4 separate regions of the Homo sapiens genome follow, and regions 2, 3 and 4 are each linked to region 1. The links come from fine-mapping of genetic effects on gene expression. A gene starts in region 1. Each other region holds a variant in brackets. All regions are shown on one strand. Distances are between the middles of the regions.

What was found.
Region 2: its variant is fine-mapped to the expression of PSEN2 in whole blood (TOPMed, PIP 0.95).
Region 3: its variant is fine-mapped to the expression of PSEN2 in gastroesophageal junction (GTEx, PIP 0.92).
Region 4: its variant is fine-mapped to the expression of PSEN2 in whole blood (TOPMed, PIP 0.95).

The regions. Positions count from the first base shown.
Region 1 is chr1:226,866,275-226,874,378 of GRCh38, forward strand. PSEN2 (presenilin 2) reads left to right here and starts at 4,342. Exons shown (of 13, transcript NM_000447.3): 1 at 4,342-4,375; 2 at 4,988-5,130. It overlaps LOC105373119 (a long non-coding RNA gene), which reads right to left and starts at 4,276. Exons shown (of 3, transcript XR_949226.4): 1 at 4,088-4,276. RefSeq lists silencers at 4,145-4,744, 4,755-4,804.
Region 2 is chr1:226,714,412-226,722,515 of GRCh38, forward strand. All of the region lies in intron 2 of ITPKB (inositol-trisphosphate 3-kinase B), which reads right to left. Among named protein-coding and RNA genes, the nearest start is that of ITPKB, 21 kb to the right of the region's middle. RefSeq lists an enhancer at 3,281-3,780. The variant G/A (reference allele first, on the strand shown) is at 4,855.
Region 3 is chr1:226,890,560-226,898,663 of GRCh38, forward strand. It overlaps PSEN2 (presenilin 2), which reads left to right. Exons shown (of 13, transcript NM_000447.3): 10 at 719-802; 11 at 1,184-1,285; 12 at 3,448-3,566; 13 at 4,865-5,539. The coding sequence ends at 5,020. Among named protein-coding and RNA genes, the nearest start is that of PSEN2, 24 kb to the left of the region's middle. RefSeq lists a silencer at 5,335-5,566. The variant G/A (reference allele first, on the strand shown) is at 3,590.
Region 4 is chr1:226,822,640-226,830,743 of GRCh38, forward strand. It overlaps LOC124904530 (a long non-coding RNA gene), which reads left to right and starts at 5,061. Exons shown (of 2, transcript XR_007066909.1): 1 at 5,061-5,206. RefSeq lists enhancers at 2,470-2,609, 5,449-5,743. The variant C/A (reference allele first, on the strand shown) is at 4,650.

The DNA of each region.
Region 1 (8,104 bases):
GACTCAGCCTCCTGAGTAGCTGGGACTACAGGCGCCTGCCACCACACCCGGCTTTTTTTTTTTTTTTTTTAGTAGAGATGGGGTTTCACCGTGTTAGCCAGGATGGTCTCAATCTCCTGACCTCGTGATCTGCTGGTCTCAATCTCCTGACCTCGTGATCTGCCCGTCTCAGCCTCCCAAAGTGCTGGGATTACAGGCTTGAGCCATCGTGCCTGGCCTTACTGATTCAACCTCTTATTGGATTCAATCTCTTTACTTTTCCTAGCTTGTTCAGATTTATTTCTTCCTGAGTCAGTTTTGGTCATTTGTGTACAGTTGTTCACAGTATTCACTTAAAATGCTTTTTTTTTTTTTTCCTGTAAGGTCCATAGTGATGCCCCTACTTTCATGTCTGATTTTAGTTATTTGCATCTTTACTCTTTATTTCTCAGTCTAGCTAAAGATTTGTCAGTGTTGTTCATCTTTTCAAAATTTTCATTTCAGCTATTGTACTTTTCAGCTCCAGAATTTTGATTTGGTTTATTTTTCATAATTTGTCTCTTTGCTGATATTCTGTTTATACATTTATTGTTTACCTGGCTTCCTTTAGTTCTTTGTCCATGGTTTCCTTTAGTTAGTTAAGCATATTTAAGACCATTTAAATAAACGTTTAAGTAAACTTTTAAACATTTAAATAAAAGTCTTTGTCTAGCAAGTTCAATGTCTAGGCCTCCCCAGGGATGGTTTCTATCAATTTCTTTTTCCTGTGAATGGGTTGTACTTTTCTTTTTTCTTGGTATGCTTCCTATTTTATTTATTTATTTACTTTTTGGTTAAAAACTGGGCACTTCGGGCCTGGCATGGTGGCTCACGCCTGTAATCCCAGCACTTTGGGATGCCGAGGTGGGTGGGTCACAAGGTCAGGCATTCGAGACCATCCTGGCCAACATAATGAAACCCTGTCTCTACTAAAAATACAAAAAATTAGCTGGGTGTGGTGGTGGGTGCCTGTAATCCCAGCAACTCGGAAGGCTGAGGCAGGAGAATCGCTTGAACCTGGGAGGTGGAGGTTGCAGGCTGCTGAGATCGCGCCACTGCACTCCAGCCCTGGTGACAGTGGGAGTCTCTGTCTCAAAAAAAAAAAAAAAAACAAAAACTGGGCACTTCAACCTGAAAAAGCTGATTGAAAGAAAAAAAAACCTGGGCATTTTGAATATTATAATGTGGTAACTCTGGAAATCAGATCCTGTTAATGCTTATTAAGGGCTGCAGTCTTCTGTTTGTTTAGATCATGCCTTAGTCTTTCTGGCCACCAGCCCCTATCCTGAAGCTAGTCAGGGGTCCCCAGCCACCAGTCATTTCATTAGCATACCAACAACATTCATCACACCTGAGATTCCAAAGGTTTTAGAAGCTTGTGCCAGGAACGGGGATAAAGACCAAATATTTATTTTTATTATATCACAACTTCCTAACTCATTTATTGAGTCATTATGCTTCACCTTAGGGCATATGCAGCCTCTTCACATTAGGGGAAATTCAGCCTATCAAGTGCAACACTGAAAGCTAAATAACAACAACACAACAACAACCAATCAGGGATGGGCGCGGTGGCTCATGCCTGTAATCTAATCCCAGCACTTCAGGAGACCGAAGCGGGAGGGTCACTTCAGGTCAGGAATTCGAGACCACCCTGGTCAACATGGCAAAAACCCCCTCTCTACTAAAATTACAAAAATTAGCTGGGCAGGGTGGCACATACCTGTAATTCCAGCTAACTTGGGAGGCTGAGGCAAGAGAATCACTTGAACTTGGGAGGCAGAGGTTGCAGTGATCTGAGATCGTGCCACTGCACTCCAGCCTGGGCGAAAAAGCAAGACCCTGTTTCAAAACAACAACAACAACAAACCAGGTTGGGGAGTTATTTCCCAGGAATTCTGTAGCAAGGGCTCATATGCATCAGTTAGAGTTGGACTTTGTGACCTTCAGGTGTCCTTCCTTTTCCAAGAATCGATTATTTTTATAATTCTGTTAAATGTAATTAATTTCTCAAATTTATCAAAGATCATTATTTGGACCATTATTTTCTTAGCCAAAATGCTGGCCTGCCCCAGTTCCATCCAGGGTTAATCTGCATTTAAACAGCTCTTTGAAAATATTTGGTTTTCCCCATCCATCTATGGCCAATTGATTTTTGACAAGAAGCCAAGACAATTCAATAGGAAAAGGACAATCTCTTCAACGAATGGTGCTGGGACAACTAGAAGTCCACATGCAAAACAATGAACTTGGACCCTAACCTCACACTACATACAAAAATTATCTTAAAATGGATCAACAACCTAAATATAGGAGCTAAAACTATAAAACTCTTAGAAGAAAACACAGGAGTAAATCTTCACAACCTTGGATTTGACAATGATATCTCACACAGGACACCAAATGCACAAACAACAAAAGAAAAAACAGTTAAGCTGAAGTTCATCAAAATTAAAGTTTTATGTGCATGAAAGGACATCAGAAAGTGAAAAAGACAATTACAGAATGGGAGAGAAATATTTGCAAAGCATATATCTGATAAGGGTCTAGTGTCCAGAATATATAAAGAACTCTTACAACCCAACAACAAAAAGACAACCCAATTTTAAAATGGGCAAAGGACTTGAATAGGCATGTCTCCAAAGAAGATATACAGATGGCCAACAAACACATGAAAAGGAGAATGCTTAATAGCATTAGTTATTAGGAAAATGTAAACCAAAACCAGAATGAGGTACCGCTGCACACCTACTAGGATAACAATAAAATGGAAAATAACAAGTGTTGGTGAGGATGTGGAGAAATTGGGATCCTGTACATTGCTGGTAGGAATATAAAATGGTTCAGCCATCGTGGAAACCACTTGGGGTTCCCCAAATAGTTAAACACTGAAGGCTGGGCACGGTGGCTCATGCCTATAATCCAGCACTGTGGGAGGCCAAGGCAGGCAGATAACTTGAGTTCAGGATCAAGACCAGCCTGGCCAACATGGGGAAACCCCATCTCTACTAAAAATACAAAAATTAGCCAGATGTGGTGGCACACACCTGTAACTCCAGCTACTCAGGAGGCCGAGGCAAGATAATTGCTCGAACCTGGGAGGCAGAGGTTGCAGTGAGCCAAGATTGCGGCCACTGCACTCTAGGCTGGGCAACAGAGCAAGGCTCTGTCTCAAAAAAAAAAAAAAATTGAATTACCATGCGATCCAACAATTCAACCCCTATGTATGTACCCTCCCCAAATAAAAATGGGCTCTCAAACAAATACATGTACATGCATGTTCATGGTAGCATTATTCACAAAGCCAAAAGATGCAAACAGCCCCAATGTCCATAGATGAATAAACTGTGGCATACATGATACACACACACACACGCACACACATATACATATACACACACAAACACTATTCAGTCATAAAAAGGAATAAAGTCTGTTACATGCTACCTGAGGATGAACCTCGAAAACATGCTAAGTGAAAGACACAAAAGTCCACACACTGTGATTCCGTTTATATGAAGTATCTAAAGTAAGTAAATATAGAGACAGAAGTAGACTGGTAATTGCCAGGGGCTGGGGGGGAAGAGGGCATTGGGAAGAAACTTCTCAATGGGTATGGGGTTTTTCTTTCGGAATGAGGAAAATGTTTTGGAACTAGACAGAGGTGGTGGTTGCACAGCATTGTGAATTCACTAAATGCCACTGAAATGCCCACTTTAAAATGGTAAATTTTATGTTATGTGAATTTCACCTTAAGTTAAAAAAAAAAAAGTAAAACTACTCAGACAACGCCAAATTATTGACAATCTCAACCTACCCCACAGACCCCAAATCCTGGAACCACAACCCCCTAGGCCAATTCTCAGGTCAGGCAGCAATTTATTCCTGTTCAATTTTATGCAGAGCTCCTGGTGGCTCTGAAGCGCCCTAGGGAACAGACCAGGAACATTCTCATGGTGTTAGCTCACATTGGGCCATTAGTGCTCCTTTAATGTGAGAACAACCGGGAGGAGGAGGGGATGTGGACCCAAAACTACAAGAAAGAGTGTCCTCGAAGCCTATGTCCTACCGCCCCACGCTGCTGCCAGGCCCGCAGGAAGATGACAGGCCCGGCCTCCACTCCTTCTAAGGTCGTCGCTTAGTTCCGACGTCGGGATGACCCTGTCATCCACGCGGCGTGAAGGCCACCCTCCCCGCGCGCCCGGGACTCCAGGTGGGGCCCCAGTGGACGAGGGAACGCGGCGTCGCCCACCGGGCGTGGCCTGGGCGGGCGTGGGGCGGGGCCTGGGCCGGCGCCGGGTCCGGCCGGGCGCTCAGCCAGCTGCGTAAACTCCGCTGGAGCGCGGCGGCAGAGCAGGTGAGCGGGCGGTGCCGGGGGGTGCCCAGGCCAGGGCCCTGTCGCCTGCGGCGCTGAGGGCCCGGGGTGGGGCTGCGCCCTGAGGGCCCTGCCCTGCCCTCCGCACGCCTCTGGCCACGGTCCCTTCCCCGGCTGTGGGTCTGCGGCCCCTGCGTGCGCAGCGCTCCTGGCCTCTGCGGCCAGCGCGGGGGCGGAGAGAGGAGAGTGCCCGGCAGGCGGCGGCTGGGCCGGCCCGGAACTGGGTCGTGGAAGGATCGCGGGGAGCGGCCCTCAGGCCTTCGGCCTCACTGCGTCCCCACTTCCCTGCGCCCGCCTGCCGCCGAGCCCCGGCTGGGGGTGGGCGCGGCGCGAGCGGTTAAAGGGCCGGTGCATTTAAAGGAGCGGTGCACGTGGGTCTCTGAGGCGTGTAGCAGGCGGGGGCGTTTTGTTCTTCTTCTCTCTCGCCGGAGACCTCCGTTGCGCCGAGTCCATTCGGCCTCTAGCACCGGGTCCTGGGCATGCTTTCCCCGGGAAGGAGGCGCGCGGGGGCTCTGCCCGCACGTGAGGGGCAGGGCCGCAGGCTCAAGCCTAGAGCCGGTTTCTGTTAGCAGCGGTGTTTGGCTGTTTTATCAGGCATTTCCAGCAGTGAGGAGACAGCCAGAAGCAAGCTTTTGGAGCTGAAGGAACCTGAGACAGAAGCTAGTCCCCCCTCTGAATTTTACTGATGAAGAAACTGAGGCCACAGAGCTAAAGTGACTTTTCCCAAGGTCGCCCAGGTACGATATAGCAGAGCCAGGCTTCGACCCCAGTGTCCTGGCTTCTAGATCTGCTGTCCATCCCTCCGAGCAGACCTCACCCCTGTTTATTGCCTTAATAAGTATTCCCTTTGAAAGGTATGAACGGTGTTGAGTGAAGTAACTGCATCCCTATTTACAAATGGAGAACCTGAGAGCATTCCATAGAGACGATTGTAGACTAACTTAACTCAGAAGCGACAGCCTGGGGTTGCCAAGGCTGTCTACGAAGTAACTTGATTAGGACCGACCCCAGCTTCCAGTAAGGAAGCCTCTGATGCCTCTGTAGCCAATTCTGCAGACACCTGAGCCTCCAAGGCCTTCAGCCAAGACCTTTGGCGGTAATTGGAGTCTCGGGATAAGCTGCTTCAGGTGTGTGAGCCTCAGGTTCTTCTCTCCTGAATGTGGTTGTGGGCAGCCGGTGACTGGCGCAGGTGCAGAAGGGGCCTGGTTCTTGGCCCCACCTCAGAGCTGCGTCCTCACGACGCCCACGTTGAGCCTTGGGTTCCAGGGCAGAGACTGGAGTGAGGGCTTGGGGGCATGTTGCTTTGAAGTGGGATGGATGTATCAGGTTTTTGGGGAAAACTCTGTACCCTTTGGTGTTGAAGTGCCCATGTGCCAAGTCTTGAGTCCAGCATGTTCACATGTGGGGAGTGAGTGGCTTGTTCCTGTCTATTTGAAAGAGCAGCAAGGAGGAGGAGGAGCAAGGGCTAGGGGCTGCTGCTGGGGTGCCTGGAGCTGTGGTGCATAATGTCACACCTGTCTCCCCTCCGTAGCTGCTCACCGTCCCCCCAAGGGGGGTTTGCCTCTTGCCTACTTTGGCCTTTCTCTGTTATCGATGTTAATAATGACATATATCTCGCTTATGAGTTGGTCATAATAAAAAGCTATCTTGTACAGAATATTAGAATTTAAGATCTTAAGAATTTCAATGACACTGAAATAGTTTATTATTACCTTTTTACAGAAGAGGAAACAAGTTCAGGGAGTTAAGCAGCTAGTCCAGTTATGTGGCTTCAGTGCTTTAAGCACCAGGATTTGAACATAGCTGGCTACACTGTCTTTATCTCTTGAGTTTTTGCGCAGGAGGTTCCTGTATTCAACTCCTACCCGTGTCTCTCCACTACTGCTGGGAAAGTTTTGTGGAGTCCCCATGAGCAACTTCCTGACAAACAAACAAAATTTTTTTAAAGAAACCAAAGCAGTGTGTGTAGGTCACATGCAGTGTGTCTAATGAAAACATCTCTGGCGGGTTTTCAGCTGTTGCTTTGACTTTCGGACACTGTTTAGTTGGGGACTGATAAGACAGCAAATATTTCTGCAAGTATTCCCACCTGTTCTATTCCCAGCTGCCACAGCTGCGGAAAGGCGGGGGTGAGGCTGAGAGGCCCCGAGAGGAACATTTTCCACTGGGCTCCAATCCTGGAGATGGGATGACCATCATGTTAATGTCTGGAGAAAAGAATGATTTCAGGCTGGGTGCTGTGGCTCATGTCTGTAATCCCAGCACTTTGGGAGGCCGAGGTGGGTGGATCACCTGAGGTCGGAAGTTTGAGACCAGCCTGACCAACATGGAGAAACCCCATCTTTACTAAAAATACAAAATTAGCCGGGCGTGGTGGCACATGCCTGTAATCCCAGCTACTCAGGAGGCTGAGGCAGGAGAATCGCTTGAACCCAGGAGGCGGAGGTTGCAGTGAGCCGAGATCGGGCCATGGCACTCCAGCCTGGGCAACAAGAGCAAAACTCCATCTCAAAAAAAAAAAAATGGTTTCACATCAGTCCTCAGGAAAGATCAGATGTCAGTGAGGGAGATCATTTCTTGAGAGCCTCTTCACTGAGTGGGAGAATGGGCTGCTTGTTCATCTTTGTGAAAATTCTAGAACGGGAAGAACAATTCAAAGGGTGTCCACCATTCTGCTGTACCTTAACCAGAAACTTACTGGACTCTTTTTAAAATAAAAGTAATTCATGTTTATTCTAGAAAATTAGGGAAAAAAAATTTTTTTTGAGATGGAGTTTCACTCTTGTTGCCCAGGCTGGAGTGCGATGGTATGATCTCAGCTAACTGCAACCTCTGCTTGCCGGGTTCTAGCGACTCTCCTGCCTCAGCCTCCTGGGTAGCTGGGATTACAGGTGCCTGCCACCACTCCCAGCTAATTTTTGTATTTTTATTAGAGGCGGGGTTTCACCATGTTGGCCAGGCTGGTCTCAAACTCCTGACCTCAGGTGATCCGCCAACCTTGGCCTCCCAAAATGCTGGTATTACAAGCATAAGCCATTGCGCTGGGCTGAGATAACCACTCTTAACATGCATTTCCTTCCACACTGTTCACATATGCATATTTATCTATTAAAACAATAGAGGGAGGGAACCGTAGGTGAAGTTTGTGTATCCTGTTTTTTCTGTTATGCCTTCAGAATTTTCCTTTTATTGAGTACTCATGGAAAAGCAGATTTGATGGCTGTGTAGAGCATTTGAATTATTTATCCTACCAGTCCCACAGCAGGACACTTTCCCACCCTCCCTTTTGCCCCAGAGAAGCAGTGCCCTCTGTCCTCCCCATGCCCATATGTGGGCACTCCCCACCATGGAGCCAAACCTACCTGGGCAAGTAGCAGAGGGAGAGCAGAGTGAGCCCTGGGGGCAGGAGAGAGACTTGAGAGTTTTGAGGTGACAGATGAGCTGGTGAGTGAGTGATTAGGGAGCATTTCTTGACACATACCTGCCCGTGGTGAAGGCATGTGTCTTGTGAGTGTGCTCCCAGAAAGCCTGTGTAGTGTGTGGTGGGCCTGCCTGTGTGACCAAACCCTGGCCACTGGGTACGTGACCCTCACAAGTGCTGACTGGGCTGAGAAGAGCTCCTTGATGGGCAGTTTGGAGACTTGAGTTGTAACTGTGGCTTTTGGCCATGGGACATTAACTGATTACTTTTGCCCCTCTAGGCTTCAGTTG
Region 2 (8,104 bases), 150 kb before region 1:
CCTAGCTCATCCTGACTAACACAACACCTTTGATTTGAAGTAAGAATGACATGAAGAGCTGCTGTAACCCTGGCTTGCTGTTTGAACAGAGGAAACAAGAGAACAGCACTGAAGAGTAAATTAAAGGGTCTATAGAAAACTACCTGTCATCCTCAAGGTTGCCCTGCTTCCTCCTGCTGCCATGCTTTTGTGCACACACATCCCTTTACTCCAGATAGTCTTCCTTTTTCTCTGACTACGTGAATCCCTTCAAAATTCAACTCCAATGGCACCATATCTGAGAATATTTCTCTTCTCCACCACCCTAGGTAGTGTTGGCATCTGTCCTCTGCTGTCAGCAGGAATTGGGACTTCACACTGTAAACATGCTTATTCTCTCCCATAGCATTCACTCATCTGGGAAGACAGTACAGAGTGGTGGGCACAAGAGCAGGCTCTAGAGCAGTGCTTTTCAATCAGGGGCGATTCTCCCCATGGGGGACATTTGGCAATGTCTGGAGACATCTGGTTGTCACAAATGGGGGGAGGTGCTACTGACCAGAGATACTGCTAAACATCCTACAGTACACAGAGCAGCCCCACACAACTGAAAAGTATCTGTCCCTAAATGCCAACGATGAGAAACTCTAAGAATATCTTGGTTCATAGCCTGACTCTTCTATTACTATGATTTTAGACATGTCACTTAACTTCTCCTTCAATGACTACCACATAATAAAAGCATAATAGGTATTAGGTATTACAATCTGCCTCCTCTACTAAACTTCGAATCCCTAGAAGGTAGGAACTAAGCTATGCTTGTACATGTATCCCTACTGCCAGTACACCATGAACGTTTGTGAACTCCATGGGTAAAGCGTTAGTTCACTCTTTTCTGAAAGCTAGTTAGTCGCAGGTAGTAGATAAAACCCTCTACCTTGCACCAAAAAGACAAGGCCTGTGCGTGCATTCTCTTTAGCAAAACCTCTGCTGGTTTTAATAGAAAGTATTTATTCTAGTTCATTGCGAAGCACAAATGCAAGTATAGTAACTCTGACCCAGAAGATTTAAGAAACCAGAAGATCAACACACACAACCATCCTGGAAGAATGTAAGTTCACGGAAATTAAATTTTATAACAATGATGCCATCTGGAGAAGTAACTTGAATCAAAATGAACTAACTACTCACCAATGGCCATAATATATTTTATGTATTCAAATAAACCAAACACAAATATCAGATTGAGTCAGGAATGTAACAAGAGGTTTTTGTATAGCAATATTTTGTTTTATTTTTCCCATTCAACGTCAATTTTCTAGGTATTACAAGTTTTCTTTCTTTATTAAACCAAGTCATTTGAAACCTTCAAAACGTGCAAGATTTCCTGATTCACACTGTAATACTCTATTGCTTTTATTTTTATGTATTTATTTTTGAGATGAAGTCTCGCTCTGTCGCCCAGACTGGAGTGCAGTGACAAGATCTCGGCTCACTGAAACCTCCGCCTCCCAGGTTCAAGTGATTCTCTTGCCTTAGCCTCCTGAGTAGCTAGGACTACAGGTGCCCGTCATAATGCCCGGCTAATTTTTGTATTTTTAGTAGAGATGAGGTTTTGCCAAGTTGGCCAGGCTGGTCTCAAACTCCTGACCTCAGGCAATCTGCCCACCTCGGCCTCCCAAAGTGCTGGCACTACAGGCGTGAGCCACCGCACCTGGCCCTCTATTGCTTTTACATGCCATTTTCTGAGCTTATAACATGTTCATACACTTCTAACCAGACGACTTAAAGTAGTGTGGTTGATGTGGAAAATACTAAGAAATCCCAAGTTGTGGCATGCAGTAAAAATGCGTAAGAATAGTTTTGTATATCTCATATAAACCCAAATCATCTTCTGTCAAAAATTGCTCTACCCAGAGAATTTCTGTTCTTCCCATACTCTAAAAAGAGATTCTGTGGCTCTAAAATCTTTTTCTTTATTTTTTTCTAAAAATCTTCTCTTTTTATTTTCTTTTTAAAATGTTTTTATTTTATTTGAAGTTCTAGGATAAATATGCAGGATGTGCAGTTTTGTTACATAGGTAAACAAGTGCCATGGTGGTTTGCTGCACCTATAACCCATCACCTAGGTATTAAGTCCCACATGCATTAGCTATTTATCCTGATGCTTTCCCTACCTCCACCCGCAAAAGGCCTCAGTGTGTGTTGTACTCAAAGTTTTTTTTAAAAAATCTGTTGAACAACTGCAACCAGCATCAAACCTAGGTTTTCAAAACGTACCAAAACGGAAAAATATTCTGAACCAAACCATCATTTGATTCAGTTCCAACTTTGGTCTTGAGCCCAATCAAATAACCACTGAAACATGCTGGACAATTCTAGTGGGCCACGGGGACTGGGTGGAAAGCCTGTGGTCATCTGTCTCCATGAGATGATTTCCATTCCCCAGGCTCAGGGAATACATGGGAAAATCCTCTGCCCATTTTCCAAAAATCCTTTAAGCCCATATAGAAAACAATACTTTCTTTGTGATAGATTGTTTATACAAATTCACCAAAGGAGATTTTGCAAATATTATATAGACTTCATCATACCGAGGGAGAAATAACCATGCCTTTTAGTTTCTTCTGATTCACTGAAATGAGGACTAAGATGCTTTATTTCACACACTACCGGGTTCATGTATATCACCGGGCAGAAAAACAAACATAAATACCTTCTTAAGCAGATGACATCTTCCCCTGTTTCTCGATGGAGACCAAATCCTCCCGCAGGTACTCAAACTAGTAGCAATCCCATTAACTCTCAAGACTACTTTCTGCTGCCCCCTCCTGAGACAGGAGTTAAAAGATGGCAAGGACATGGGCAAGTGGCCTAGGGTGCAAGGTGAAATCTAGTGCTAGCTTTAAAGAGAAAATTCCTTCCATCTCTGTGGTTATGAGTAGTTCTAAATTACATACCCCATGTTTCTTTTTTGGCTTAATTACAATAAAAAGGGGAAGCATCTCTGGGACCTTCAGCATGACTATGTTGCAAAACTAAACCCAAAGCACAGGCCCAGGCTGCAGAGAGACAAAGGGAAGCACCAGTGGCGGAAAGGAAGCCTCACCCAGAGTGGGGCCTGGTCCTCAGCCACCATCTCGGAGGCGCCCAGAGGGAGGTGGCAAGGAGACACTCTGCATCTGCTTCTTTGTTTTTCTTTTTATTTCCAGGCCCCAACAATCAATAAACAACTTTCCTTAAATAATACAGCACCTGTGAGTCAGCCTGGGTAAGCTCCTGTGGAGACGGAGCTGGGAGGTGATGGCATGTGGGCAGGGGCCGCCGTCCGGGCCTCCTACACACCACAGCTCCCACCGGGCTGCCCGCCAAGGGGCATGACTCTATCCTGGAGTCAGAGGACACTGGGAGCAGGAAGCGACCTCAGAGATGACCAAACACCTTCACCTGAAGCCCTGAGAGGCAAAGCCCAAACAGGAGGCCAAGGCTTTTGACACCCTGCCCGTTTTTATAGCACCTCTGTGGAATTGTTCATTTTCTAAGCCAGATCATTCCACAGAAGGAGACGGTAAATAAGCCAGTGAAAAAATTAACATCGCCAGCCATTAGAGAAAAGCAAGTTGGCCGGGCGTGGTAGCTCACGCCTGTAATCCCCAACACTTTGGGAGGCCGAGGCAGGCGGATCACAAGGTCAGAAATTCAAGACCAGCCTGGCCAACATAGTGAAACCTCGTCTCTACTAAAAATACAAAAATTAGCCAGGTGTGGTGGCGGGCACCTGTAGTCCCAGCTACTTGGGAGGCTGAGGCAGGAGAATCACTTGAAACCAGGAGGCGGAGCTTGCAGTGAGCCAAGATCGCACCACTGCACTCCAGCCTGAGCGACAGAGCAAGACTTCTCAAAAAAAAAAAAAAAAAGAGAAAAGCAAGTTAAAACTGCAATGAAGGCTGGCGTGGTGGCTCACTCCCATAATCTCAGCACTTTGGGAGGCCAGGAGACTTGAGACCAGCCTTGGCGACACAGCAAGACCCCATCTCTACAAAATAATTTTAAAATTAGCTGGGCATGGTGCTGCATACCTGTTGTCCTATAAATCGCTACTTGGGAGGCTAAGGCGGGAGGATCCCTTGAATCTAGGAAGTCAGGGCTGCAGTGAGCCATGATTGCCCCCTGCACCCCAACCCGGGCAAGCTACAGAACAAGACCCTGTCTCAAAAAAAACAAAACAAAACAAGACACAGAAAGAACCTACAATGAGATGGCCTTGCATACCTGCATACCTACCAGAGTGGCTAAAATAAAAGTAGCTACTTAGCTACTAAATAAAACGCTGGCAAGGATGTGGAGAAGCTGCAGCACTCATACACTGCTGTGGGATGTAAAATGGTGAAGCCACTCTGGAGAGCAGTGTGGCAGTTTCGTAAAATATGAAATGAATGTGCAACTACTGTACGACCCAGCAACTGCACTCCTGAGCATTTATCACAAATAAATGAAGGCTTACATCACACAAAAATGTGTACACGAATGTTCACAGCTGCTTTATTCAAAATAGCCAGACCTGGAAATGACACAGATGTCCCCTCCTAAAAAGTGAATCGGGGGCCGGCACGATGGCTCGTGCCTGTAATCTCAGCACTTTGGGAGGCCGAGGCAGGCAGATCACTTAGAGGCCAGGAGTTTGAGATCAGCCTGGGCAACATGGTGAAACCCCGTCTCTACTAAAAAACACAAAAAAAGTAGCCAGTTGTGGTGGCGTACGCCTGTAATCCCAGCTACTCGGGAGGCTGAGGCACTAGAATCACTTGAACCCAGGAGGCAGAGGTTCCAGTGAGCCAAGATCACACCACTGCCCTCCAGCCTGGGCAATAGAGC[G/A]GGACAAAACAAAACAAAAAATTGAATCTGAATCTCTGAGGGTAGCATAGCAGAGACTGAGGAATCCAACTTTGGTAAGGAATCCTGGTGGTCGCTCCCTGCTGACTTACCGTGCCCTGTGGTCGGTCACTTGCCGCCCCACATGGCCTTTACGATGGAGGCCACAGCCTCACTTGGTGACCGCAGCTGTGCTCCTTTCCAGGGAGGTGCCACACCCTTCACCTCTATCACCTATTGAGAATATCACCTATTGAAAGCCTGGGCATTCTGTGTCCTGGCCCCTTTAGGCCCTCACCCATGTCTCCTAATTTAAATGAGGATTTAACTTAATTTACCTGGAGGCAGGTAACTCAACTCGATTGCATTCAATTCCTGCTTAGGTGCTGACATTATAAGCCCACAACAGCTTGTACCTGTTGGACTCATGCGCAGGCCGTGCAGCTCCAGGCTGCCTGGGTGCTTCACAGTATAGCAGTACCTAGCAAGCCCCACGCAGCACAGAGGCCCACGATGCTCTCTCTGGGTGGCCTGAGGCATCTGGACACGTGCAGATCCATGCTCTGTATCTGCTGAAACCCTCTTTCCCGTGGGCAGATCTGCCCTTCTCCCTGTGGGAGGCAGGCTGAGTCCCTGGGGACCCGGATTACAGAGTGAGTGCCTTGGGGTGCTCCCCTTTTCTGCTATCAGGGGCTTATTGCCCTGCTATGTCTGCAGCAATGAGGAGCTTTAACCTTTTCCTGCCCTTTAGGGTTAAGAGTTCTCTTCCAGTTCATCAGCCTAAGGAGGCAGCTCCAGGAGCTCACTTTTGCTGCAGTTGCATCTATTACATCCCTTTTTTAAACAAAGGCCCATTCATTTATAAGGAAAAGAATCCACTCTTAGTTCCACCTCCTCAAGTAGAAAATTTTTAACTAGACTAAAACGGTACTCCAGGGGACCTATGTGAACACACTCTCTTTCCCCCGGGGTCCAGTATTTCCACGGCAACAACCAATCCTAATTCCCTCAGCCACCTCCCAGGGCTGTGGTTCAGAGGCCCCATTGCTCCACCCATCCACCTCTGCATTCAGTTCAGTTAGTCCCCAGTCCCCCTAAAGCACAAGGCCCAGAACTAAATTCAAAGCCACCTTCCTCTGTTCTCCAGGCGACAGCTGATGGGTGGCAGAGAGGACAGGGTAGGAACTTGGGAGATTCAGATGAGTTAAAATCCCAGTCCTGCCATTGATCAGCTGTGGGCTTGGGACTAACAATTTATATGTCTCATCCTCATCTCTAAAAGGAGGAAAATAATGAATGCCCTGCAAAAATTACATAAAGTATTTGACGGAACATGCCTGGCACATAATAGGCACTTCTGAAATCATTGCTGCTATTATTTTTATTATTATTGTGCATCCTAAGACTGTTTAGTATTTTTTACAGCCGTACCACCTGTTAATTCATATTGAACTGGTAGTAAAATTATAACTCCCAGTGAATTTCAAAAGAAATATTGGCCGGGCGCGGCCGGGCGTGGTGGCTCATGCCTATAATCCCAGCACTTTGGGAGGCCGAGACGGGCAGATCACGCGGTTCAAGATCAGCCTGGCCAAGATGCTGAAACCCCATCTCTACTAAAAACACAAAATTAGCCAGGCATGGTGGCACCTGTCTGTAATCCCAGCTACTCAGGAGGCTGAGGCAGAAGAATCGCTTGAACCCGGGCAGCAGAGGTTGCAATGAGCTGAGATCATGCCAGTGCACCCCAGCCTGGGCGACAGATCAAGACTCCATCTCAAAAAATAAAATAAAATATTGGCCGGGCGCAGTGGTTCACGCCTATAATCCCAGCACTTTGGGAGGCCGAGGTGGGTGGATCACCTGAGGTCGGGAGTTCGAGCCCAACCTGACCAACATGGAGAAACCCCGTCTCTACTAAAAAAAAAATACAAAATTAGCCAGGCGTGGTGGCACATGCCTGTAATCCCAGCTACTCAGGAGGCTGAGGCAGGAGAATCGCTTGAACCCAGGAGGCGGAGGTTGCAGTGAGTCAAGATCTCGCCATTGCACTCCAGCCTGGGCAACAAGAACAAAACTCTGTCTCAAAAAAAAAAAAAAAAAAAAAGAAATAAAAGAAATATTGATGAGCCAGGACTCCTCCATCCTATCCTTTGGGCAACTGACTTTTAAATACCTTTATGGGGAACTTATGTTCCCTTTTATGACATCTGGTCATGGGGTCATACTGAACTATTTTCTTTTTTTTTTGAGACGGGGTTTCGCTCTTATTGCACAGGCTGGAGTGCAGTGGTGCAATCTCAGCTCACTGCAACCTCTGCCTCCCAGGTTCAAGCAATTCTCCTGCCTCAGCCTCCCAAGTAGCTGGGATTACAGGCGTACGCCACCACGCCTGGCTAATATTTTGTATTTAGTAGAGACGGGGTTTCACCATGTTGGTCAGGGTGGTCTGGAACTCCTGACCTCAGGTGATCCACCTGCCTCAGCCTCCCAAAGTGCTGGGATTACAGGCGTGAGCCACCGCACCTGGCCTTTTTTTCTTTTCTTTTCTTTCTTTTTTTTTTTCTTGAGATGGAGTTTTGTTCTTGTGGCCCAGGCTGGAGTGCAGTGGCACAATCTGGGCTCATTGCAACTCCCGCCTCCCGGGTTCAAGCGATTCTCCTGCCTCAGCCTCAGGATTAGCTGGGATTACAGGCGCGCACCACCACACCCAGCTGATTTTGTATTTTTAGTAGATACGGGATTTCACCATGTTGGCCAGGCTGGAATCGAACTCCTGACCTCAGGTAATCCACCCACCTCAGCCTCTCAAAGTGCTGGGGTTATAGTCATGAGCCACCGCACCCAGCCATAAACTATTTTCTGAAGTTGCTCAAGTCTTCTTTGCAAAGTCAGTGTTCCCAAACTACAGTCAGAGGCCAGGCTCAAGGTTCCTAGCAACCTGCCACCTGGTACATTCAGGGCACTCGCCCTTCAAGCACAACATGGATCCTTGGGGCTCCTTGCCACTCCAACTCCTAGGAGACTCTCCTGCCTTCCCCTGGGAATGTGGTATTTGAGGCCAATGGTGACTGACCAGAAAATCTAGGCCAGTTCAAAATGCCAAAGACAGGATGCCAGGAAGGACCCAGAACCTGCAGGGCTCCGTTCAGCTTCTTGGGGTTAACCAGCAGTCTGCAGAGGCGGGAGACGGCTCGGCTCTCAGGAGAGAGCAGCTGATTTTTAATGTACAGTGTAATACCGCAAGGTAAAC
Region 3 (8,104 bases), 24 kb after region 1:
CACACGGGATGGCCCCTGGCCTCGGGGTCAATGTGTAGAGATTTGGACTTACACATGCAGTCAACAAAGGCACATCAAGTCCCCATTTTGTGACAGGCACTGTGCTAGGCATTGGGGGACCCAGCAGGAAAGAAGACCACAGGGTCCCAGGCCTCATGGAGCTCACGGCCCTGTGATTGTGATGCCCTCGGTCTGTTGATGGCGGGGCTTAAATAGCCTGAATTTCTGGAGCTCTGGCGTCTGCAAGGTGGCCTGGGAAAGAGTTTATGGAACAGCTACAGAGTTCTAGGTACCTTCATGCAGTTGAGGATTCGAGCCCGTAGAGGAGAATCGCCTGCAGCGTGGCCCCACGGGAAAGCACATTCCAGGCGCATTCCGAGGATGAGCGGAGACCATGTATGGAAAGGTAGTGCCAGGACTGTCATGAGTGTCCCAGGGCTCGGGGGATTCACCCGTGAACTGTGAGGTCTTGGCTCTGATAGACCTGGTTCTTATGCTTTAGGAGGGGAGACAAACAGTAACAGAATAGACAAATGCAAGAGAGAGTGACTCTGGACCCCTCCCACAACGGCCTCCTAACAATGGAGCATGAGCAGATACCTGCAGGATGGAGGGTCCTGTGCAGGCTTTCTGGGACGCAGACTGGCCACCTCCCCCAGGCCCTGCAGGCAGCCACTGTTAGCACCGCCTGAGATGTGAACCTTTTCTCCTCCCCCAGCTGCCATGGTGTGGACGGTTGGCATGGCGAAGCTGGACCCCTCCTCTCAGGGTGCCCTCCAGCTCCCCTACGACCCGGAGATGGGTGAGTATCTTGGGGAGCTAACAGCCTCTCATCACTGGGGGGCAGCTCCCTACCTGCACCCAGCTCTGCTCGGCCTGGCTTCCCTGAGAGGCATGAGTTCAGGAGGGGCAGAGGGAAAGGTCCGTTGAAAACCAGCCGGACACATGCGGCTTGAAGATTCAGCAAGTGTTGGACCCTCGGTCCTCTGCCAGCCTCTGTTGCATCGTTCTGCTGGGCGTGGGTGGGTGGAGTGGGGGAAGCCCTGGTGTCAGGTGCTGGTGCTCAGGGGGACCCCTTCTTGGAGCTTTGTTCCCTGGTAACACTCTGACCAGCTGTTGTTTCTCTCTCTTGTTGTCCCCTCCTCACGGTGATGACGGACATCTTCTCTTCCTGGACACCCAGAAGAAGACTCCTATGACAGTTTTGGGGAGCCTTCATACCCCGAAGTCTTTGAGCCTCCCTTGACTGGCTACCCAGGGGAGGAGCTGGAGGAAGAGGAGGAAAGTAAGGTGCCCATGTTCACACGGCCTGCTTCAGCCTACGGCGGGAGCGGAGACAGAGGGTGGAGGCTCCCTGCAGCCTGGGTGGAGGAGGGCATGAGGGGAGGGGCCCCTTTTCCCATCAGAGGCATCTCTGTGAAAGTAGAAGATGCCTGCAGCGCTGGGGTCTTCTCAGCAGGCCCCATGTAGTTGTCCGGCATGTATTGAGTATGGGCCACGTGCCCGTGCTGTGCTGGGTGAGGCCCAGCCCTGGTGGGACCCACAGGCTAAGGAGACACGGGCAGTAATCACATAGACTGAGAAGCCAAGGACTATGAAGGGGGCCATGGGGTTGGGGAGGGGCGGCAGGAGAGCATGCCACGGGGCTTCTTGACCTGGTTGGCAGGGGTGAGAGAAAGTCAGCTGAGGAAGTAACTGCTGAGCTGAGCTCTGAAGGTTGAGTCACAGCAGTCACTAGAGGAGAGGAGCACAGGGTGGGGAGCATTTCCTGACAGACAGACTCAGGAATCAGAGGAAGCCGGGGCGGGATGCAGAGAGCAGAAGTGTGGGAGAGCCTTGCAAACAGGCCTGGAGACATGCGAAGATAGGAGTTCATCCTGGCGTCAGTACACGGTGCCTGCCTAACACCCAATGCCAGCCCACTGCTGCGTGCCAGGCAGCACCCTGGAGCAGGGAGATGCTGCACTGTCGTAACAGCCCCTGCCTTGAGAGGTGCCTTACGGGAGCAGCCTGGTGACAGTGGCTTGGCATACAGGACTCCAGTGACACGGGAGGGGCAAGCTAGGGAAAGATCACTCTGCGGTGGGTCTGGAAGGAGGAGCAGGTGCGCACCCTCCAGGCAGGCTTGGGGGAGGTATTTATTCCAAGGCCAACTGGTGTGCTGCAGACCAGGAGTTAGCACAGATCCCACGGGGCCCGCAGGACTGGCCTCCCTCCAGACACCAGCCACAAGCTCTAGAGGGTCTAGATGCCACTTGTGCTTCTGACCGGCTGCAAATTTAGGGCTCCCATGACCCCCTTAGGTTCAATAACTTGCTAGAATGACTCACAGAACTCAGGAAAGCACTACACTTAAAATTGCAGTTTGTTTTTTGTTGTCGTTTTGTTTTGGAGACAGGGTCTCGCTCTGTTGCCCAGGCTGGAGTGCAGTAGCACGATTGTGGCTCACTGCAACCTTGACTTCCTGGGCTCAAGTGATCCTCCCACCTTGGCCTCCTGAGTAGCTGGGATTACAGGCACGTGCTACCACACCTGGCTCATTTATATTTTTAGTAGAGACAAGGTTTTGACTTGTTGCCCGGGCTGGTTTCGAACTCCTGGGCTCAAGTGATCCACCTGCCTTGGCCTTCCAAAGTACTGGGATTATAGGTCTGAGCCACAGCACCCGGCCAAAATTAGTTTTATTATAAGAGATGCAACTCAGGACCAGCCAAATGAAGAGACAGTGAAGAAGTAATGCTGATGGATCACACCTGGTGGGGGAAGGAGGACAGCTGGGGCCAGGAGCAGGAGGGACACCTGCAGGGCTGGAAGGGCAGGGGAGGTGGGCCTCCATGGTTTGTGTTTATTGCATAACCATTTTTATTGTCTACAGTGAGCAAAGTTATCCTATAAACAAGTGTCAGGGACCATTGCACTAAAGAAAACAAACGAGAGCATTTTGGAAGCTCTAATTTCCTGATCAGTAATGGGTAGACTAATTCCCAGTTATATTTACCTGTTGTAAGGTGAAAGGTTCTTCAGAGGACCTCTGTCTTGGTGTTATATGGGCTTTTGAATGTACTGAAATTAAATTCCCTAAAAATCTGTGATTCAGACTTCATACTAAATTGTACAGCAGTGCCCAGCCCAAGGCCTTGCATTTCTATTTGTTGTTTTCTTTACTCTCTAAGTGCCCAACACTGGTTTTACCTGAGTTTCAGAACTGCCCGCTTTTCTCTGCCCAGGTTGTAAGTCACCCAGTCCACAGGTGTCCCCTGCTTTCCCACTGGCCACTGATTTGGGGAGGCAGCTGTCCATGTCCCCAGTCCACATCTTAGCTTCTAGAGGCCAGGTGGGGTGGGCTGGGCTGGGCAAGAGCAGCTGGGCCTTCTGGGCCAGAGTTTCTCTTCTTTTTCCATTCTGTGCACGCCTCTTCAGTACGGGTTACTGTCTCTCCTCACACAGGGGGCGTGAAGCTTGGCCTCGGGGACTTCATCTTCTACAGTGTGCTGGTGGGCAAGGCGGCTGCCACGGGCAGCGGGGACTGGAATACCACGCTGGCCTGCTTCGTGGCCATCCTCATTGTGAGTGGCTGGGGATGCGTCCA[G/A]CTGCCTCGTGGTGGGGGCCCCCAGGGTCCTCATTGTGGTGGGGGCAGGTCTCAGGATCCCTAGGGATTTTTCATTTCTTCTCTTCCCTCTGAGGGACAAGAGCAGGGAGCGGGGCTGGAAGGGTCAGCTTGAGACCAAGGCTCACAGGAGGTGTGCTCGCCCCTAGGTGGGCTCCAGCCTGTGGAGGACAGTGCAGGGGAGGGTGAGGAGTGTACCGGCCCCAGCGTGGCTGAGCACACAGCCTCCAGGCCGAGGACCCAGCTGACAGCTTTGCGCAGTGATGATACCCTCGAGGTGGTTGTGATGACATCAGATTTGCAGAAAAGAAAATTGCTTAAGGGCCTTGCCCATGGGCGCAAAGCTAGTGAGGACCATGTTTTCCCCCTCCTCCATGCCATTGGGACACCACAGGGTCTGAATCTGGGGCACTAGGGGTGGCCCCGTTACTGTGAACCACAGCAGTGAAATGTGGAGGCCCTGTAGTCAGTTAACGTGACCAGATACACATAATGGGGAGACGTCCTGCCGTGACTTCATCTCAGAGATTTCGCTGTCACGTTAGAGGAGGAGGAGCGTCTGAGCCGTGCGCTTGGCATCTGCCCCTTAGTGAAAACCCTGGGCATGGCATGATTAAGGTTGATGCTCCAGTGTCCAGAAGGTTTTCTTTTTGCCCACAAGTATATCAGGGATGGGATGGTGGACCCAGGCTCCTCCACCACCAGACTGCCTTACCTGAGCCCTGCTGGCCCCAAAGATATAGAAGGCACCCTGGTTCCCTGTGCTCACCTGGACCACTGCCTGCATCAGCTGGGTCAGGGGAGGATGGGCAGCCCCCACACCTGCTTCCCAGGGGCAGGTTGCCTGGCGGCTCTGATTCCCTTGGTGCCAGCTGCTGAGAACCTTACTGCCATTTCAGTTGAGCCCACCTAGCTCTCATATAAATACATGTTCCCTGAGGGCATCTTACCATCCCATGTGACCACTCCAGCCAGACAGGGGAGGCAGCACGGCCTCGGGGCACAGCACTGCTCCAGGAGTCAGGAGGCCTGCCTTCTGGTTCACTCACTAACAGGTGAGGTGATCTAATGGGGGTGAGAACTTCTGCCCTTAACACCTCAAGAGCTGTTGCAGGACCAGGGAAGATAATGGGGTGTCTAGCGCCGTTATCCGACTGGTCCTCGAACAAGCTCCTGTGCCCAGGGACTAGACCATGACTCACAGCTCCTGTCCACACCAGGGATCACCACGCTCACCCTCCCCTCCATGTCCTGCAGGGCTTGTGTCTGACCCTCCTGCTGCTTGCTGTGTTCAAGAAGGCGCTGCCCGCCCTCCCCATCTCCATCACGTTCGGGCTCATCTTTTACTTCTCCACGGACAACCTGGTGCGGCCGTTCATGGACACCCTGGCCTCCCATCAGCTCTACATCTGAGGGACATGGTGTGCCACAGGCTGCAAGCTGCAGGGAATTTTCATTGGATGCAGTTGTATAGTTTTACACTCTAGTGCCATATATTTTTAAGACTTTTCTTTCCTTAAAAAATAAAGTACGTGTTTACTTGGTGAGGAGGAGGCAGAACCAGCTCTTTGGTGCCAGCTGTTTCATCACCAGACTTTGGCTCCCGCTTTGGGGAGCGCCTCGCTTCACGGACAGGAAGCACAGCAGGTTTATCCAGATGAACTGAGAAGGTCAGATTAGGGCGGGGAGAAGAGCATCCGGCATGAGGGCTGAGATGCGCAAAGAGTGTGCTCGGGAGTGGCCCCTGGCACCTGGGTGCTCTGGCTGGAGAGGAAAAGCCAGTTCCCTACGAGGAGTGTTCCCAATGCTTTGTCCATGATGTCCTTGTTATTTTATTGCCTTTAGAAACTGAGTCCTGTTCTTGTTACGGCAGTCACACTGCTGGGAAGTGGCTTAATAGTAATATCAATAAATAGATGAGTCCTGTTAGAATCTTGGAGTTTGGTCCGTTGTAAATGTTGACCCCTCTCCCTGCATCTTGGGCACCCCTGGGATAACTTGTGCTGTGAGCCCAGGATGGAGGCAGTTTGCCCTGTTTGAAGGAACTTTTAATGATCTCGCCTCTCTGCACACATTTCTTTAACTAGAAAGTTTCCTAAGCAAAGGAGTTAGGAGAGCAGGGTGGCCTGACATCTGCCAGCCCTGAGCTGTAAGGCTGTGGATGCTGAGCAGGTCCCTGGACTCAGTTGTGCACGGTGGCACAGACACTGCCAGGTGGTTGCCAAAACATCCAGTGGTTCCTTCAGCAAGTGTTCACCCTCTGCAGAAGCCTGTGAGGGCCTGAGCTCAGAAACCACTCTCCTTTCCTTCTCTGGCTTTGGCCCTGGGCACTGTGGTGGGAGAGTGGACAGTTTGGCTTTGCCTTCTCTGTACATCAATCATGGGTTGCAAAGAGAATCTCAGAAGTGCCTCTTCCTGAGCACAGTGGCTCACACCTGTAATCCCAATACTTCGGGAGGTCGAGTCGGAAGGATCACTTGAGCCCAGGAGTTTGAGACCAGCCGGGGCAACATAGTGAGACTTTGTACAAAAAAAAATTTAAAAATTAGCCAAGCATGGTGGCATGCATCTGTAGTCTCAGCTACTCTGGAGGCTGAGGTGGGAGGATCACTTAAGCCCAGGAGGCTGAGGCTGCAATGAGCCGAGATCAAGCAGGTGTTAGGTATATCAGACAGCTGAGAAGACGCAAGTGTGCCCTGGGGTTCAAACTGGTACCCCTGTCTCCCTGTTCCAGGAATAACATGAGTGCCGGGACAATGCATCTTTATTATGAGAGGAATGAGAATTGTGTATCTTGACATTTGACAGGAGCTTGCTTTCCCCCAGGCTGTTTGAGGAAGGGCAGAGGAAAATGTGGTGCCCTAAGAAGGAAGGACAGAGGAGGCCGAACACTGGCGGGTGGAATCCCACTGATTAGTAGTGCAGGTCAGAGACCTGGGATGGGGGGCATTGCCGTCATGGAAGCCACAGCGGGGAGCGGGTAAAGCAGACAGGGATGGTCCCTGATGGTGACAACTCGCAAGAGGTTAAGGGGAAAGAAAAACTGAAAAGCTTATTCAATTTGGCAATTATGGCAGTGTTTATCTTCAGAAGAGCAGTTTTAGGGTGGGGTTTCCAAAGATGGGATTGGACATATATTTTGAATCATTAAGCTTGAGGTCTTTCAAAGGCCTGGCCAAGGGTTGCTGGGTGGAGACCACATTCAGAGGTAAAGGCAGAAATTGGGGGCCCTTAAGTAGACAGCGAGGGAGGAAGAAATGAAGGGGCCTGGTGATGGTTAGGGTGAAGTGTTAAGACTGAGAAAACAAGGACATGTGAGAAGACGAGGGAAGAGCATTGGAGAGAACAAAGACACTGGAGGAGATGCTACTTGGAGGTCCCCAGAGAGCAGGGAGACAAATGAACCCAGAACACAAATGGCAAAGAAGAAAAATGAGAGAATTTGTAAAAGACAGCATTCGAACATGCCGAACAAGAGCAGGGTACTGGTGTTCAAACACCTGTATCTCCCCCGTGTAACCCGTCAACTAATATCTTTCCATATTTGCTCCAGATTTGTCTTTAGAAATAAAACCCACGTTCTGAAGTCCTGTTTGTATGTGGCCCCAGTCCTGTTGCCTCCGCCTCCTGTCCTGAAGTCGATTTCTGCCCTTCTCATCTATGGTTAGTTTTGTTTTGTATGTTGGCATGTTTTCTTAACTTTACAGAAATGGTATCATACTGTACATATTTGATAATTTTTTAAAATATTGCATTCTGGAGGCATGTATAAATGTAGCTCCAGTTCATTTATTTTATTTATTTTTTGAGATGGAGTTTTGCTCTTGTCACCCAGGCTAGAGTGCAATGGCGTGATGTTGGCTCACTGCAACCTCTGCCTCCTGGGTTCAAGCAATTCTCCTGTCTCAATTTCCTGAGTAGCTGGGATTACAGTTGCCCGCCACCATGCCTGGCTAATTTTGTATTTTAGTAGAGACGGGGTTTCACCACGTTAGCCAGGCTGGTCTCAAACTCCTGACTGCAGGTGATCCACGCACCTTGGCCTCCAAAAGTGCTGGGATTACAGGCGTGAGCCACCGTGCCCAGCCCAGTTATTTTAACTATTGTATAGTGTTCCATTGTATGAGTTCTACTGTTTATATGCTATTGATCGACCTGTAGGGGTTTTGCAGTGTTTCTGTATTACAGCTGTGCTGCAGTGAGCATCCCATCACATTGTGTGGATTTGAGGAAGTATTGGAATTCCCCCAATTGACTGGACATTCCCAATTACCCTCCAAGTATGTGTCTGTTTATCCTTCCATCCGCAATCTGAGAGTTCCCCAACTCTATAATACTTGGTGTCATCAGACTTTTCATCTTGTCTGATTGGATGGGTGTCATTTCCTTTAGGTTTTATAATTATCTTTTCATATGTGTATTGGCTGTACAAGGTTCCTTCTCTGTTCATTATTATTAATTTTTTTAGACAGAGTCTCGCGCTGTCGCCCAGGCTGG
Region 4 (8,104 bases), 44 kb before region 1:
CTTCCTACTGCTGATGTAACAACTTATCACAAACTCAGTAGCTTAAAACAGCACAAATTTATTCTCTTGTAGTTCTGGAGGTCAGAATTTTAAAATCAGTTTTGCTAGGCCAAATCCAAGGTGTGGGCAAGCTGGCATTCCTTCTGGAGGTTCTAGGAGAATGTTTCCTTGTCTTTTCATCTCCTTGGGGCCTTCTGCATTCCTTGGCTCCTGGCCCCTTCCTTGCATGGCCCCTCTTGTTTCAGTCATCACATCTCCTATTACTCTCTCAGATCCTCCTGCCTCCCTCTTATAAGGACCCTTGAGATTACATTGGCCCCACCCAGATAATTCAGGATGAGCCCCCTCACCTCAAGGTCTTTGACTCAATCACACCTGCACAGTCCCCTATATGGTAACATGGTCACAGGTTCCAGAGATTCAGGGTGTGGACATATTCGGGGTCATTATTCAGCCTGCCCTGGTGTGTCTCTAAGGAAGGCCAGCTGGCTGTCTACACAAAGGCCCTGAGACCAGAGTTCCTCTGGTGAGTTTACCAGAGTCTGGGCTTCATCCTTGCCAGTATCTCAGACTTGGAGATGTTAGCTTGGAACCACTAGATACCGGCGACATTGTCGGATAAACTGGAATTCCAATGAATTCATTTATTCCTTTTTATCAGGCACTATTCCTTTCCAGAAGGGTCTGCCTGGTGTTTGAACACCTGTGTGGCCAAATGAACAATCAGAATGCTGTTCGGTGAACATGAACATGAACATGAACTTGGCGGTGGGTGTTGCCAAGGGGTGTTTCACCCAGGTAGCAGGGAAGACAGTGAGCCATCCTGACTGACAACAGAACTCACCTTTCTACAGGCCAGATTCTGCATTTTTCCCTAAGCAGAGCTGGATACAACTCCCAAACTCTAGCTTTTTCCCTCTTGTACCATGAGCCAGGATCCTAGAATCATCCTCAATTCCTCCCTCACACTCCACATTCAATCCAACACCAAGTGCCATCTTTTCTTCCTAAGTATCTCCCATATTCAACCACAGCTTAAAATCTCCTCTCCCACACCCTACTCCAAGCCGTCTCACCTGGATCACTGTAACAGCCTCCAAATGGGCCTTCCCGCCCCTACTTTTGGTCCCCTCTGTCAAATTCTCTACCCAGCAGCCAGACTGAGCTTTAATCTAATCATGTCACTTCCTCATTTAAAGCTCTTCAATGGCTTTACAGTACCATTAGGGTAAAGCCTCCTGTGTTAGTTCAGATCCTCCCAGAAGCAGACACAGAGTACAGTGGCGCAATCTCGGCTCACTGCAACCTCTGCCTCCTGGGTTCAAGTGATTCTCCTGCCTTAGCCTCCTCAGTAGCTGGGACTACAGGTGTGTGCCACCACGCCTGCATGCAAGGGTTTTTTCTGGGGAAATTGTGACAGAAATGTGGAAGGGAGCTGCAGGAGTCTGGGAGACCCATCCAGTGTGATGTGAGTCTGGCCCCACAGGAAGGGGAAGGTGAGAGTGGAGGGTAGACGTAGTCTGCCGACCCTGAAGTCTAAGGAAAGTTCAGCAAACCACCATGGAATCCTTGAGCCAAAGCTAGCGACAAAGGATTTCTGTCCCTAGGGGAAGCCTGGCTTTGGTGTGAGTGGCAGGAGCCCCTGGTCAATTTTGCTGCCCAGAGTTAGAGGTCTACAAGGTGCGTTCCCCTGGCCACCATGCTCCCAATCCTCATCTCATCTCTGGCCCACCTCTTCCGTTCCTGCTGTGCCAACCCAACTTACTCTTTCCCATATGTGAGTCTTTGTAAAGGCTGTTTGCTGTGCCCGAATTACTCATCTTCTCACCTCCCCTGTCCCCTTTCCCTTCCCCCAACTCACTGATACTTCAGCTGAAACATCACTTCCTCCAGGAGACTACCCCATCCGTCTCCCACGTGCTCCCACAGCCTGGATCCTTCTCCATCCACATTCCTCATCTCCTGTGTTTAATGCCTAACTCCATCCTCAGATGTGAGACTTTAGCAGGCAGGAACTGTGACTATTTTATCCACTGCCATATCCCCAAAGCCTGGCATATAATAAGTGCTCAGTAAAATATTCATTGTTGAGCCAGCAAGGTCACCTGAGTCTGGCAGATGCAAGGAAAGAATGTCACAGTTTTGAGAGTAGTCAACCATGGAGGCTCGGAAAAGGGAAGCATGGAGGCAAACTGGCAGAGTCCATCCAGGCATTAGCAGTCGGTTGAGCTCAACATCATGAACGCTGATTTGTGCCATAGAGCATCTACTATGTGCTAGGTGCTGGTAGCTAACCAATGAATAGAACCTCTTAAAGTGTAATATGGCACGGGTACGACTAGCTGGGGCCATGGTCGCAGGTGGTAAAGGAATTTACCAAGACAGTTGTAGGTAAAGAAAGGCGGATTATAAGAGGAAGTATGAAAATACCTTGCAACGTTGCAATGGGCAGCACAGCAGAGAAGCGTCTGTCTGCCAAGAGGTGGGGGCCTGGAGGGAAATTTTACAGGGCCGTGCTGGAGGGGGCTATGTGCTGAATGAGGACATTGTGCCCCCAGAACAGGCCATTGTTTGTGATTCTGATTTGTGTTTCTCAGAATGATTGTTCATTGTTCTTCCCCACCTGGGGCCCCTTCCTCTTGTTGCTTACTTATCTAATCAGGACTTCACCTAAGGAATTGTGTAGTCAGTCTAGGGGAGAGACAATGCTGTCAGCCTACTAAAAACCAACTCTTCCAGCAGGTGTATGTGCACCTATTGTTAAAGGTGATGGCAATAATATGTAACTGATATTACAACAGTTGGTCTGATGTGGCAAAGACACTGACAAATTTGAACAGATGCCAGTCATTAATAACTGGTGTAGCCATGGGGAAGATTCCAGCTGAGTATTGGCTGACTGAATGCAGGCAGAGAGCCGTGCCATTTCCACTGGAATCTACCTCTTGCCATACTTGTTCTGACCCATGACCACCAAGGAAAGCCCCCGGCGCCCTGCCCCTGCCTGTTTGGTTGGTCATGCGGACACAAATATCTGATCTTATTTCTCATTTTAAGTGATGGCTTTATGCATCATTCTCTTGTGAGCTTCTTGAGTCCCCGCACCACAGAGCCATGGACAAAATAGAGTTTCTCGGCATGCAAGACCAAGGTCTGAAACCTGGGCCCTGGTACCTACCTTCTTTAGGGCCAGGCCAACTTGTGAGCCCCCTTCCTACAACCCCAGACCTCTCTGTGCTGACAGACAGCTCTCTTTGATGGCTGCCATTGGCACTGGGGAGTTGATACTTGAATGGGGGCGGGTGGGGTGGCCTCTCAGACTGTAGGCTCGGGAGTAGCCCTTCCAAGAGGCTGACCCTGATAGTTGAGTCAAACTGGTGACAGAATTGATGTGAGAGCTTGACAGCAGACCTAGGGCAGATAGCTAGGGGCTGCTAACCAGAGACTTAGTAATTAGCATGCAAATTGAGCAAGAAGGTGATCAAAGCTGGGAAGTGGAGGAAATTAGATGTCTGCTTCTGCCGGCATTCTCATACACGCTGAAGAGGCAGTAGTTTGTCCAGCTGTGTGTCTTAAAGATACCATCTGTGTCAGTCTCAGAGGTGCCAGGAGCCCCTCTCCCAATTACCTGTCATCTCTGCATCAAATTCTCCAAAGTGGATTTTGTTGTGGTTGTTGTTGTTGTTGTTTTGAGATGGAGTCTCGCTCTGTCGCCGAGGCTGGAGTGCAATGGTGCGGTCTCGGCTCACTGCAACTTCCGCCTCCCGGGTTCAAGTGATTCTCCTGCCTCAGTCTCCCAAGTAGCTGGGATTACAGGCGCCCGCCACCGTGCCTGGCTAATTTTTGTATTTTTAGTAGAGACAGGGTTTCACCATCTTGGCCAGGCTGGTCTTGAACTCCTGACCTCGTGATCCACCCGCCTCACCCTCCCAAAGTGCTGGGATTACAGGCGTGAGACACTGCGCCCGGCCTCCAAAGTGGATTTTTGCTCAATATGTTCTATTCCCAGCTGTCTCAGACATGGGTGGGGTAATGACTGATTCCTAAATCCGTTGACCTCAGCTTTTTTTTTGACACAGGGTTTCCCTCTGTCGCCCAGGCTGGAGTGCAGTGGTGCAATCACATCTCACTGCAGCCTCAACCTCCTGGGCTCAAGCAATTCTCCCAGCTCAGCCTCCTGAATAGCTGGATCTGCAGGCCCGCACCACCATGCGTAGCTACATTATTTATTTATTTTGTAGAGATGGGGTCTCCCTATGTTGCTCAGGCTGGTCTCATACTCCTGGGCTCAAGCGATCCTCCCGCCTCGGGCTCCCAAAATGCTGGGATTTACAGGCATGAGCCGCCAGGCCCGGTGACCTCAGCTTTTACCCAGCACCATCAAAGCAGGACGCACTGCACAAACCTGAACATTAGCTGTTGTCTAGCTGCCGGAGTATGCCTGGGGAACAGTCACAGTTGTTGCAGCTACACAGCATGTGTGCGTTTGTGAGTCTGGAGTTGGAGTTGAGTGAGACCCTGATACTAGGGAAAGAGACGGAAAGCCAGACTCTTACTTAAGGGCTTCTATCGCAGGAGGGAAGATTTCTTCCAAGAGCTCAGTGCAATAAATGAAAGAAATTTAGAAGGCTGCCAGGCTCAGGGCAGCC[C/A]CGGAGCATCAGAAGTAGGAGGCTGAGGGTCGGGAATGGGGAGCAGGGGTTAGAACTGAGGAAGCAGGGGTTAGAACTGAGGGGTTGCTGAAGACACCACCACGTTTCAGAACTCAGGATAGGGCCTGCCTGGGGACTCGCACAGAGGAGAAGGAACCGGTAGTCTAAAATACTAAAACGTGTGGAATTCCTGCATGGAGGCTTCCTACTGGGAGTGTAAAATTTCTGTGAGAACTGTAAGAAGTAAGCAAACAGCATCAGAGGACATGAGCCCCGTGGAAAGTGCCTCAAAGTGTGGTTTGAGGATTACCCGCCTGAGACTCCAAAGAGGTGTTTGCCAAAAAAGGCAGATTCTTGGGCCACACCCGGCTCTATGGAGTGGGAAGCGCTGAGGGTGGGGCCTGGGCGCCTGCTCTCAGAACTGGTGCCGCTGAAAGCTTGCAGAGCCCAAACGCTGCGAGGAGGTCGCACCAGCAAGTGAGGAAGCAGAAGGGATGGCTTCCTGCGCCTCCCACACAATTTTCAACTTTTCAGGAAGTACCATAGGAGAAGTCAAGGTAGATGAATACGTTTTTCTTTGGTCCCTAGCATTTTTCTTTTAAAATTTTATTTTCCTTTTGAAAAAGAATGTGAGAACAAAGTCTGAGAACGAATGTGAGAACGAATCTCGAAACGTGAGAAAAAGGCCTTCTTCCCCCCCTCCACCTCCCCTGCGTGGTCCTTGGGTGCTCTGTGAACGGTGACCCCACCCTCACAGGGACCCTGACTCCTGAGGGGTCACCACTCATATCCTGTGAGAGACTACGCTATTCCCTGATTCAGCGGGGTCTCCAGGTCTGAACGCCCAAGGCCAACACAGAGGCCTAAAAATAGAGCCCGGGAGGCCCAGTCAAACCGGAAGAGAGCCAGAGGCCTCCCTGGAGTCCCGAAGACGATCTGAACCAAGGAGCCCAGCGCCCTCTAGCGGGAGACAAGCTGCTTCGCGGCCCTGGTCTCCGGTCAGAGGCACTGGGCTGGGGCTGAGCACTCCGAGGCGGAAACCAAAGGGTGTGCCCCTGGGGACACCGCCTCAAGACCCCTGACTGAGGCTCCAAAAGGAAAAATTGTGCCACTTGTGTTTTACGAACTTCAACGTAATTGTAGGATACATTGCTGTAATGTATAATGTTGTAATAATGATTACCTTCTATAACCACAGATTTTTATATTTATTTATTTATTTATTTTTGAGACAGAGTCTTGATCTGCCACCCAGTCTGGAGTGCAGTGGCACGATCTCAGCTCACTGCAACCTCCGCCTCCCGGGTTCAAGCAATTCTCTGCCTCAGCCTCCTGAGTAGCTGGAATTACAGGCGCCTGCCACCATGCCCAGCTAATTTTTGTATTTTTTGTAGAGACGGAGTTTCACCATCTTGGCCAGGCTGCTCTTGAATTCCTGACCTCGTGATCCACCCGCCTCGGCCTCCCAAAGTGCTGAGATTACAGGCGTCAGCCACCGCGCCTGGCCGACTTTTATTTCTTTACTTATTTACTTATTTATTTATTTTCTGAGATGGGGTCTTGCTCTGTCGCCCAGGCTGGAGTGCAATGGCGTGATCTCAGCTCACTGCAACCTCTGCCTACTGGGTTCAAGTGATTCTCCTGCCTCAGCCTCCCCAGTAGCTGGGATTACAGGCACGCACCACCATGCCCGGCTAATTTTTGTATTTTTATTAGAGATAGGATTTCACCATGTTGGCCAGGCTGGTCTCAAACTCTTGACCTCAGGTGATCCACCCTCCTTGGCCTTCCAAAGTGCTGAGATTACAGGCGTGAGCCACTGCCCCTGGCCTAGCATCACAGACTTTAGACCCTTTTCATTACTTCTCAGTGAGACCAAGGTTCCTATCACTAAATTCACATGCACATAACATATAACCTGGAAGGGTACCCAAGCACCTCCGACAGCTGCACCAAGATTCCATCTGGGAAAGCTGTTCTCTGGGGGAACATACAACTTTGGGATGGGTGCTCAGGAGCCTTAATAGCAGAAAAGGACCCCTTGCAAGTCAGAAAATTTGGCTGAATCATTCCAGGCACTCTCTGAGGGGGCAGATGTCTCTGCTGGCTAATTGTTCCCCCACCTGAAGACATCAACTCAGTTTTCCCTAAGTCAGAGAGAAAACATACTCCTACTGTACATATTTCGAGAAAGGAAATATACAGCTGAACACTGAAGTGCCCAGTTAGGCTTTGAAGAAAAGGATTGTGGCCGAAAGACACCAGGCTTTTAATAAAAGCTAAAAAGCAAAAGTGTATACCACCTCACACCCATGCGGATGGTGACTATTAAAAAACTAAAGAAAGAAAGAAAATAAGTGTTGGTGAGGATGGAGAAATTGGAACTCTTGTCCTCTGTTAATGGAAACGTAGAATGGTACAGCTGCTGTGGAAAGCAGTATGTCAGTTCCTCAAAAAATTAAAAATGGAATGACCATTCAATTCGGCAATTCCACTTCTTTTTCTTTTTTTTTTTTTTTTGAGACGGAGTCTCGCTTTGTTGCCCAGGCTGGAGTGCAGTGGCACAATCTTGGCTCACTGCAACCTCTGCCTACCAGGTTCAAACGATTCCCCTGCTTCAGCCTCCTGAGTAGCTGGGATTACAGGCACCTGCCACCACGCCCGGCTAATTTTTGTATTTTAGTAGAGACGGGGTTTCACCATGTTGGCAAGGCTGGTCTCAAACTCCTGACCTCATGTGATCCGCCTGCCTCGGCCTCCCAAAGCACTGGGATTACAGGCGTGAGCCACTGCGCCCGGCCCCAATTCCACTTCTGAGTGTGTAACTACAAAAATTGAAAGCACAGTCTCAAAGAGATAGCTGCACACCTTTGTTCATAGCAGCATCATTCCGAATAGCCAAAAGGTGGGGGCAACACAAATGTCCCTCAACAGAACAACAGATCACCAAAATGTGGTGTATACCCACAAAGGAATATGATTTGCCCTTTAAAAGGATGGAAATTGAGCCGGGCATGGTGGCTCATGCCTGTAATCCCAGCACTTTGGGAGGCTGAGGTGGGTGGATCCCTGAGGTCAGGAGTTCGAGACCAGCCTGGCCAACATAGTGAAACCTTGTCTCTACTAAAAATACAAAAATTTAGCTGGGCATGGTGGCGGCGCCTGTAATCCCAGCTACTCAGGAGGCTGAGGCAGGAGAATCGCTTGAATCTGGGAGGCGGAGGTTACGGTGAGCCGAGATCATGCCATTGCACTCCAGCCTGGGCGACAAGAGCAAAACTCTGTCTCAAAAAAAAAAAAAAGATGGAAATTCTGCTGGCACGGTGACTCACATCTGTAATCCCAACACTTTGGGAGGCCAAGGTGAATGGATCATGAGGTCAGGAGTTCAAGACCAGCCTGCCTAACATGGTGAAAGCCCGTCTCTACTCAAAATACAAAAATTAGCCGGGCAT